Homo sapiens: one gene and its partners. The protein of the gene in region 1 interacts with the protein of each later gene in a biochemical or structural test. Each region holds a gene or a part of one and is shown in the gene's direction. Other genes may lie near its edges.

Region 1 (3,444 bases):
TTGGCAAGAGGGGTAGGGACTTAAAGGAATGACAGATTGTCCATGGATATTAAAGAAGACTTCATGGAGAAGATGGTGTTTGACTGGGGCCTTAAAATATAGGTAGGGTTTTAATAAGGAGATAGGGAAAGGAGTGCATTCCATGAGAAAGCAGCATGCACACTGGCTCAGAGGTGGTGATGCCAGGGTGAACAGTTTAGATTTTTGGTGTAGGTCATAATGAACCTTCAAAGCCTTTTTACCTGGGGAATAACTCAGGAAGATTTTTCTGCCAGAAGTATATAGGAGAAATTGGAGTGGGGACAGCCTGGAGCTTCAAAGGTGCAAGTGGTAGAAGCAAACAGAGCTTAACAATTGATTGGATTTACAGGGCAAAAAGGGGAACAAAGATGAGTCCAAAGCCTGGGAAACTGGGAAATGATGTGCCATTAACTGAAAATAGGATAACAAAAAGTGGATTTGGAGGGGTATGTGGAGAAGTGCTTTTGAAAATGGGAAATTGGAGAGAGGCCCATACACAGAAATGATCATTGAAGCTGTGGGGCTAGTTGAGTTAGCCTGGTTGATTGTTCAGCAAGAAGTCTGAACCTAAGGAAAAACCTATCTATAGGGGGTGGTGGGAAGAGAAAGAGCCTGCAAAGGAGAAAGAACTGGATCAGTCAGTGGTTGTAATCATGGTCAATCAGGGGTCACTCAGCAACTGAGTGAGAAGAGCCTCTAAGTTACTGCGGACAGCAATTATTGTGGCTTGGTAGGTGATGTGCAGCATAGGATTGTTTTATAATGTTCCTTTCATTTCACAGACTAAAAATTCATTCTGGTATGGAGTGTCCTGAAATGAATAATATTCAAAAACAACCTTTGTTGTAAAGATGGCATACATCTCTGAATGTTATTGGTCACTTTACCATTTCAAGTTAAAAAAAAGTAAATCCTATACCACAAAATGTTCAGGGCTTCTAACTTAGAAAGCATTAAGTAGAACATCATCAGGCTCCTGATTGGTCAGGGCTCTGGCTCAGTTTCTAAGTATCTCCTAATGTGGTAAGAAGCAGCTGGTAAGACTCAGTCTAAGACCCATTGTGTTCATTGGGACAAGAGAGTGTCCCAACTGTTTTATCATCTGACTCTTAGAATATGGCTACAGAGATCCCATCTCCTTTGCCCCTACAGTGAGCTGTGACCTCTGTATATTCTTCACAGAAGCACAAATTCTTAACAGCAAAAATATTGTTTTTTTTTAAAGCCTATTCAATTTTAAAGCTTGATATGGTTTGTCTGTGTCCCCACCCAAATCTCATCTTTAATTCCCACGTGTTGTGGGAGGCACCTGGTGGGAGGTAATTGAATCATGGGGGCAGGTCTTTCCCATGCTGTTCTCGTGATAGTGAATAAGTCTCACGAGATCTGATGGTTTTAAAAAGGGGAGTTTCCCTGCATAAGTTCTCCTCTCTTTGCCTGCTGCCATCCATGTAAGATATGACTTGCTCCTCCTTGCCTTCCACCATGATTGTGAGGCCTCCAGCTATGTGGAACTGTAAGTCCATTAAACCTCTTTTTCTTCCCAAACTCAGGTATATCTTTATCAGCAGTGTGAAAACTGACTAATACAAAGCTTCTCTTCATAAATTGGGCATAATAAAGGACATCATCATGGCCACAGCAGTATGCATGCATTCTTGACTGTGGCCAGTATTCTCTGGAACATTGCAAGACTAAGATAACCTTATAAATGCCAAATAACAGTAGTTCTTTTTGGTTCATTTAAGTAAATTCTAGATCAAGTAATGGGACCTCAAATTTCAAATGAATTTTTCATGTCTTTCTACCTCTCCCTACAGCTCATTTCCCTACAGGAACAGTTGCAGCGTTTTCTGAAGAAGTGAGGAGAGCCATTGGCGTGGCCCACAAACCTTGGATTCACCATCCAGACTGCAGATTGGATGAAACTGTGCACGTTTTTGTCCCTTCAGTTGCCTTATGTTGAATCAGTTATATTTATCTGTACCTTCTTTGCTACTTAAAATATGCTCACAGTTTGTAGTCATGTAGAAAAGGCCAGTATAAAAATGTAGTAGACTTAAAGACCCCACTCGACCATGAGACTTTCTCTTTGTCAATTTGGGAATTATTATTATTAATTTAGAAATGGGGTCTTGTTATGTTGCCCAGGCTGAATTCAGACTCCTGGGCTTAAGGGATCCTTCCGCCTCAGCCTCCTGAGTAGCTGGGACTACAGTTGTGCACCACCACACCAAACAAGAATTGATTATATTGCTTCTGTGCTATGGTACCAGCAGATTATTCAGCCATGCTTCTAAAGGCAGTCTAGCCTAGAGGCCGTACAGCTGTTTGGTTTGCATATGTTTTAGCTTTTCTTTTGGTTTTTAGTATTTCCTAAAACATAGGGGAAAAAACGAGGTCATTTCTACTAAGCACTAGGACCTGCCATAGTGAGTTTAAGTGCCTACCTTGCAGCAGTTAATACTAGATTGTGTTCTGTCTCTGTTCAGGTAACAGGACTGCATTCCTGCTCAAGGATGATTCCTTGCTGCTGCTTATGTTCTGTTGTTTTTAGGATGGAGCTGGTTGTTATTCACCAACTAAGGGAACAGTTAGAGCAGAGATGAAGAAATTATGAACTGTTATCCTTATTCTGAGCCTTCTCCTCCTAACCCTCATCAGTTAAGGTTAGGAAGAACAAGATGCCATAATGCCTATGAAGACTTCTTTAACAATCTTGTTTGGGTTTTTTTCTAGGTATATTATTAGTGTTTTATGGTCTATGTTCTTTAAGCAATAAATAAATTGTTCATTTTAAATGGATTGTTGTCAATTTATTAAACCATCCCCCATGATGAGTGTACTCATATCCAAACAGAAACAAGAAGAAAAGCAATAAGCTCTATATCTTAGTTCATTTGGGCTGCTGTAACAAAAATACCATAGACTGGGTAAATATAAACAACAGAAATTTATTGCTTATAGCTCTGGAGGCTTGGAAGTCTAAGATCAAGGTGCCAGCAGCTTTGGCATCTGGTGAGGGGTTTGTCTGCTTCCTAGCGTCTTCGGGGTGCATCCTCACATGACCGCAGGGCAAACAAACTCCCTCGGGCCTCTTTTAAAAGGGCGCTAATTCCATTCATAAGGGTGGAGCCCTCATTACCTAATCACCTCCCAAAAGCCCTACCTCTTAATACTAACACATTACTGATTATATCTTAACATATGAATTTTGGGGGACACATTCGGACCATAGCACTCTGATTAGAAAATGGCAGAAGATGCTATCAGCCTTGGGGCATCCTTCCAGAGTTCTTAGGGTAACTCCTAATAAACTAAGCAAATAAAATCCCAATGCTGTATTGTTAAGGTGAGAAGATTTGCTCCAAATCCCAATGCTATATGGTTAATATGAGATGGAGCGGGTGGTGGGGGGTGGTT
Region 2 (3,655 bases), on another chromosome or scaffold:
ATACTGGGTGTGGTGACTCACGCCTGTAATCCCTGCACTTTGGGAGGCTGAGGCCACTAGATCACTTGAAGTCAGGAATTCAAGACCAGCCTGGCCAACATGGTGAAATCCTGTCTCTACCAAAAATGCAAAAACTAGCTGAGTGTGCTGGTGGACGTCTGTAATCCCGGCTACTCAGGAGGCTAAGGCAGTAGAATCACTTGAGCCCAGGAGGTAACGGTTGCAGTGAGCTGAGATCACGCCACTGCACTCCAGCCTGGGCGACAGAGTGAGACTCCATCTCAAAAAAAAAAAAAAAAATTAGCCGGGTGTGATGGTGTGCACCTGTAGTCCTAGCTACATGGGAGGCTGAGGCATGAGAATCACTTGAACTCAAGAAGTGGAGGTTGCAGTCAGCTGAGATCACGCCACTGCACTCCAGCCTGGGCAACAGAGACTCTGTCTCAAAGAAAACAACAACAACAACAACAAAACACTATTTTTACTGAGACAGCTCTTGATTTGGAATGTAAGTTCTGGAACAAGAGGGAGCTTTAATAATTAAGCTTCCTGGCCTGCTGAGAAGCTCAAGTTGTTTCCCATAGTTCTTCCCTGGCTTGAGCTGCTTGAATTTACTGATTGATTGAAAGGTTGGAGGCTGTCATTGCCAGTGCTTTGCAAGTCAGGTAACCATGACGGGAGGCAGACAAAAGCTGTAGCTTTTTCTTTTTTCCCTTTGCAGCATAGGCTTATCTCTTACAGTTCATGTTGTCTTGGCTGCTAAGAGCTTCATATGTGAGACCCAAACACACAGTGACATACACCTGCTCGGGCACCTGTTTCATTTTTGGCATTGAGGAGCTGGGATGTTGTTACTTTGTATATAGACAGCAGCAAATAAAACTTGCAAGAGGAGCTTCTCCTTTAAGGCCAAGAGAATTTCGAACTTCAGTTCTCTTAGAGTTTGAATGGTGAAGACTTACTGGATTTAAGCTATATCCCTCTGAGGGCAGGACCTGGTAGTAGACCTAGTACGTGATATCAGTCAGCACTGCTTTCCCTTTGATTTTATCGTAAGCCTTACCACAAAGTGGATCTGTCTGGGTTTGGGATTTTAATAGAATATGGCATGAGAAAGCAGAGTTTATTGCTATTTGCCATGCTGCTAGTCGTTATACTATCGTGGTGCTTTAAAAAGAAGAATACTGACCTGTGGTCTTTCCTTAACATAGATAGGAAAAATATCTAAAAACAAAAAGAAAAAACTGAAAAAGAAACAGAAGAGGCAGGCTGAGTTATTGGAGAAGCGCCTGCAGGAGATAGAAGAATTGGAGCGAGAAGCTGAAAGGAAAATAATAGAAGAAAACATCACCTCAGCTGCACCTTCCAATGACCAGGATGGCGAATACTGCCCAGAGGTGAAACTAAAAACAACAGGATTAGAGGAGGCGGCTGAGGCAGAGACTGCAAAGGACAATGGTCAGTGGGGCCTGGAACCTGGGCTGCATGGGGTTCTCAGAGCTCCATTAGTAGGGTTCTGCCAGGTCAACATGGGGGCTGATTTGTGCTGCTGCTGCAGATGACAAGGATGATTCTCTCCAACTCCCTATTGGGAAATATGGGAAATAGCCTCGTACTTCATTTGTGAACTGTATGCCAGAAATATGTTAACATTTCAAAATAGTTTTTAAAAATGTAAAATAATTGAGAAATTCCATGTTTCTATCATGCTAATGATGGTGCTTTATTTTGTCATTAACTTTTTACCTAACTGTAATGCACCACAAGTCTGTTTCTGAAGATTATAGAGGGTAGAAATGGAAGTGCAACTTTATTTAGAAAGAGTTATTTTCCCTTAAAGCTAACTTTTTCTTATAAGAGCAGGCCAATTACTAAATGAATGAAAAATGAGATTTAGAAAACCTGAAGGTTTTACCCCAAAAGCCAAGAGGTGTTTACCAGGTGGTACATAAGCATATTCAAAATGTATTTTATTGATGGAGATAAGTACTTAATGAGGCTGTATTAAGGAGAGTAACAAGTTCTAATTCTTGACCCATCAAATTCTTAAGGTGAAGCTGAGGACCAGGAAGAGAAAGAAGATGCTGAGAAAGAAAACATTGAAAAAGATGAAGATGATGTAGATCAGGAACTTGCGAACATAGACCCTACGTGGATAGAATCACCTAAAACCAATGGCCATATTGAGAATGGCCCATTCTCACTGGAGCAGCAACTGGACGATGAAGATGATGATGAAGAAGACTGCCCAAATCCTGAGGAATATAATCTTGATGAGCCAAATGCAGAAAGTGATTACACATATAGCAGCTCCTATGAACAATTCAATGGTGAATTGCCAAATGGACGACATAAAATTCCCGAGTCACAGTTCCCAGAGTTTTCCACCTCGTTGTTCTCTGGATCCTTAGAACCTGTGGCCTGCGGCTCTGTGCTTTCTGAGGGATCACCACTTACTGAGCAAGAGGAGAGCAGTCCATCCCATGACAGAAGCAGAACGGTTTCAGCCTCCAGTACTGGGGATTTGCCAAAAGGTAAGTGTTTCTTCCCATCAACTGTCTGCCATCGCTGACTCCAGGGACGTGCCTTTAACAAATGCTGTGAAGGAATTGGCTGGAAGTGGCCAAGCCCTGTGTGTGTGTACTGATCAGTTTTATTACTTTTATACTCCTGAAGAAGTAATGTGATTTAAATAAATTTTCTATGCCATTAGGCTATTTCTTGCTCTCTGCATACCAAATCTTATTTCTGACCAGTTTTCATTTTTAATATATTTAGTCAGCAGCATCATTTGCAAAAACCTTCCAGTTTTAGCAACTTACACCTTTCTAGAATGTGTAGTTTAGTTTAAAATTCGTATCTTCTTCCATCTAATGTCATTATATTTAGTTTAGTTTAGTTTTGTTTTGTTTCTATTCAAGAAAATTATGCCTCCTCTTTGACTCTATTGAGAAAGAAGTGTCATATTGTCTTTTGATAGTTGTTCCTGATTATAGGACCCTACTATTGGTAACTGGCCCAGGATTGTAATTTTCAAGGAATTGGCATGGATTTAAATGTGATGACAGATTATAGATTGGCTCTTGTGTTCTTGTCTACCTAAGAAGGCTTGACTTATTCAAAGCCTTATTTTGGGAGTGAATGCCAAGTGACTCTAGTAAGTGAAAACTGGGTAACACAGCTGGTTTCCATACTGGCTTATGGGGGAAAAGCTCTGAAACCTCCCTCTGCTCCCTCTACTGACAAGACTGTTTAACACACAGCGAGTAAAATTGATGAGCCAGCCCTGCAAACAGCCCGACATTCTGCAGCCCCTTTGGTTCCAGCAGTCTGGAATTGCACGCCGAGTAAGCTGGCTTTGTTACGCACTGGCTATGATGAATCCTCCTAAGGATTTGCTTTCTTTACTTGGCTGGACGTGGTCAGCTCCTGTTCCCCTTTCCAGGGAGTGTTTGAAGGTGCTTACATAGAATGTAGGTTAATTTCTGGGAAAGGGCAGTAGTGAGAGGTACCTTATCCAGACTTATTGTTGCTGTTGCAGTTCAATTTTTCTCTTACTTGAAGTTTCTTTTTTTTTTTATGAGATTGAGTCTTGCTCTGTCACCCAGGCTGTAGTGCAGTGGCGCGATCTCGGCTCACTGCAACCTCTGCCTCC
Region 3 (3,655 bases), on another chromosome or scaffold:
TTTTACTTTTTGTAGAGATGGAGTCTTGCTATGTTGCCCAGGTTAGTTTCAAACTCCTGACCTCAAGTAATCCTCCTGCCTCGGCCTCCATATTTTCTTTGTTAATCTGTTGATAGACATATAAGGTGATTCTGTATTTTAACTATTGTGAACAGGGCTGCAATAAACATGGGAGTTCAGATATATCTTTGATATACTGATGTTCTTTTTTTGGATATATACCCAGCGATGAGATTACTGGATCATATGAAAATTCTCTTTTTAGTTTTTTAAGATACCTCCATACTGTGTTTCATCATGGCTGTGCTACTTTATATTCCCATCAGCAGTGTACCACCATTCCCCTTTTTCTGCATCCTTACCAGCATTTGTTATTTTTTGTCTTTTTGATAATAGCCATTCTGCCTGTGGTGAGATAATATCTCATTATGGTTTTGATTTGCCTCTCCCTAATGATTAGTGAAGTTTAGGATTTTTTTTTCATGTACCTGTTAGCCATTTGTCTGTCTTCTTTTGAGAAATGTCTATTTGGATCTTTTGTCCATTTAAAAATAAGACTTTTTTTTTTTTTTTTTTTTTTGCTAATTGAGTTTTTTTAGTTCCTTATGTATTCTGGTTGTTAATCTTTTGTTGAATGGATATTTTGCAAATATTTTCTCCCTTTCTTTATGTTGTCTCTTCACTTTGTTAATTATTTTCTTTGTTGTGCAGAAGCTTTTTAGCTTGATATAATCCCATTTGCCTATTTTTGTTGTAATTGCCTGTGCTTTTGAGGTCCTACCCCAAAAATCATTGCACAGACCAATGTCCTGTAGCATTTCCCCAGTGTTTTCTTCTAGTAGTTGCATATTTTCAGGTCTGAGATGTAAGTCTTTAATCCATTTTGAAATGATTTGTGTATATGGTGAAAGCTGTGGATCTAGTTTCCTTCTTTTGCACAGCCAATATTTGATTCTCACTGAAATCTCACTGCCCTCCTGGAAATATTACCGGATGTTTTACTGTCATAGCGAAGTGAGAGTAAGCTGCTCACTGAGGATCAAAGAGCTTGTGACAGACCTAAGACTCAAGTCTTCTCACACCTTCAAAATCTCTTTCCATCATACAATCTACTAGCTGCTGAATTCGCAAGCTTTTTGTGCAAGCTAGTAAAAAGCAAAATGGTTTGATACAAATACTGTGGCCATGCTAGGTACAATGACATCAATTTAAATTATCATTGGTCTTAACAAGGGGATGTAGAAAGGGGTCTCCTACTGACATTTTAATACTCACTTAAAAGTAGTATTTTTCCTTCAGATTTCTTTATATTATTAGTATAATTACTGTAAGTATCCTTTACTGCTTTATATGTTGAATTAGCTGGAAGTGCCAAAAGAAAAACTCTTAATGATAAATTTAAGGTATTAAGGTAAATTTCTCCTTCATTTAATTTAATAGTAATTCTTAATTACTATTTAAAATAAAGATTAAGGTTTGTTTCTAGATGCCATTTAACATGATATTCCAGACTGCCAGTTTTATTTTCAAAGTTTGTTTCATATTTTATTAATGTTTCTTCATAAATGACAGTCTTTAGAAAATTGACGGTTAAGCTAGGTGCTTTATATTTTTCTTTTCCTGCCTATCTTTTCACTGTGCTCCTAAATTTTACATCTCTTTATTCTCAAGGGTTCAACCTTTGAAGAAGGGGAGCAAAATAAATGAAAGTGGCTAAAATTTTTTCTTTAACCCCTAGACTCTTTCCTGTTGTGCATTAATTACATGCTTGAGTTTTTAGAATAATTATAATAAAGTAAAACTACCAATTTAATTGTATTGTAACTGTGCAAGATGGGAACCTTCTCTCTTAGAGAGATAAGCTTTTAATTGAATAGATTAATGGATCAATTGTTACCTCTGCTTTGCTGCCAGAGATTCTATTTAATCACAGAAGTTCCATGTAGTGCTGGAGAGCTCAGTTGCCTGAATCTTTTTGCAAAGCGTTTACTGATACTGTTGCTTCACCAACCAAAACAAACAGGTTTTTTCCTTGAGTCAGCTTTGTAGGTACAGAGATGAGTTTGGCATCCTATGTGACTTTTTTTTTTTTTTTTTTTTTTTTTTTTACCACCAGAAGCTGTTCAGAATGTTATTTTCTTAAATAGTTCGGAAAAAAGTCTTGATGTATTCTATGAAAGCACAAAAATAGTCAGTTTCTATGACAGCTGGATTGTCAACGTCTGTTCAGCTTACGTGGAGGAGGATGTCCTACTTGAGTAGTATAGGTAGAAATAGCTATCAGAAATTGCCGCCTTTGAAAGCAATTTGAAATTATGTAAAAGGAAGTAATGACAAAATAAAGCAATTTATGTTTAATCTGGAAAAGATCCAAAAGTAATATTGTAAAGAGATCTTGAGTAATCATTTTTATCTTCCTAAAATAGCCGTTGTTTACTCCCGTAAGCGAGTAAGAAACTTGTGCCATTATTCCTTATTGGGTGCATATAGATTTCTCACCTTGTCATTCAACTCCTTGCAATATTCAACTTTACTTATGCATCCAGCCTTATCCCAAAATAGCCTCTTCCCTGTAGCAGCTTCCTTATCATGTAGCAGCCTACTCTCCTCACCGCTCATCCGTTCTTATACAATCTGGCTTAAGCTCTACCTCTTCATATTATATTCTTCTCTGAGTAATTTCAACTCACACTGAGTCTTACTTTCAGTATTTCTATTATATTGGTATTTATTACACATCACACTTAGATACTTTTCCATTAGTCTCTAGAGGGTACATATATGCACTTTCTCTTTTTTTTTTTTTTTTTGACCATGTCAAGTATAGTTCTATAGTATAATAGAATGAATTGGAGATCCTTTACATTTAGAGAGGGAGGAGTCTACAGTAGGAAGAATAGGTTAATTTTCATCTCCGGTTTGAAATCAGGACTTTCAATTTTTTTTTCAGAGGTAAAGAGCAACTTAGTCAAGTTGGCATCTTGTAAACAGACTGAGTGAAGATATACTTAAAATGCATCTATAATTTCATATTTTATTTCGAAATGTGAAAGAGCCTACTAGGGGTGTCTGTGATCTCTAGACCTTATCAATTCATTCTAGAGAAATCTGGAGGGAGCCATTGAGGAGTTCTACCTCCTGTCTATTTTATAGAGCTCTTTCTCTTTTTCTCCTATCAGATGTAGATTCAATTGCTAAAAATGCCACGTTTCTTGCCTCTATTATTCTAGCTTCATTACTTGGGGAGCAGCCATTCTGATAACTTACATTTTGCTACTAAAATCTCCAACTTCACCTAATCCTTCATTATAAGCCACTTCATTTTTTCCTATAATTAAAATTTTAAATATGTGGAGGAAATTCTGTCAGGTAGATATGACTTAAAACCTACTAAGGGCCAGGTGCAGAGGCTCACGCCTGTAATCCCAGCACTTTGAGAGGCCAAGTCAGGAGGATTGCTTGAGCCCAGGAGCTTGAGACCAGCCTGGGCAACAGAGCGAGACCCCTGTCTTCACAAAAAAAAAAAAAAAAAAATTAGCTGGGTGTGGTGGCACATACCTGTAGTCCCAGCTACTTGGGAGGCTGAAGTGGGTGGATCACCTAAGGACAGGAGTTCTAGGCTGCAGTGATCTATGATTGCACCATTGCACTCCAG

The links.
Region 2: of the proteins of TAF7L (region 1) and SRPK2, one has a biochemical effect on the other in vitro, tested with the Homo sapiens proteins (one large-scale study listed by BioGRID and IntAct).
Region 3: the proteins of TAF7L (region 1) and LRRK2 interact on a protein array, tested with the Homo sapiens proteins (one large-scale study listed by IntAct).

Annotation. Positions count from the first base shown.
Region 1 is NC_000023.11:101,267,635-101,271,078, reverse strand, and holds the end of TAF7L (transcription initiation factor TFIID subunit 7-like), read left to right. Parts: intron 1-1,841; coding exon 1,842-1,886; 3' UTR 1,887-2,822; downstream 2,823-3,444. UniProt on the Homo sapiens protein: Probably functions as a spermatogenesis-specific component of the DNA-binding general transcription factor complex TFIID, a multimeric protein complex that plays a central role in mediating promoter responses to various activators and repressors.
Region 2 is NC_000007.14:105,140,887-105,144,541, reverse strand, and holds part of SRPK2 (SRSF protein kinase 2), read left to right. Parts: intron 1-1,211; coding exon 1,212-1,458; intron 1,459-2,051; coding exon 2,052-2,534; intron 2,535-3,655. UniProt on the Homo sapiens protein: Serine/arginine-rich protein-specific kinase which specifically phosphorylates its substrates at serine residues located in regions rich in arginine/serine dipeptides, known as RS domains and is involved in the phosphorylation of SR splicing factors and the regulation of splicing.
Region 3 is NC_000012.12:40,227,876-40,231,530, forward strand, and holds part of LRRK2 (leucine-rich repeat serine/threonine-protein kinase 2), read left to right. Parts: intron 1-3,655. UniProt on the Homo sapiens protein: Serine/threonine-protein kinase which phosphorylates a broad range of proteins involved in multiple processes such as neuronal plasticity, innate immunity, autophagy, and vesicle trafficking.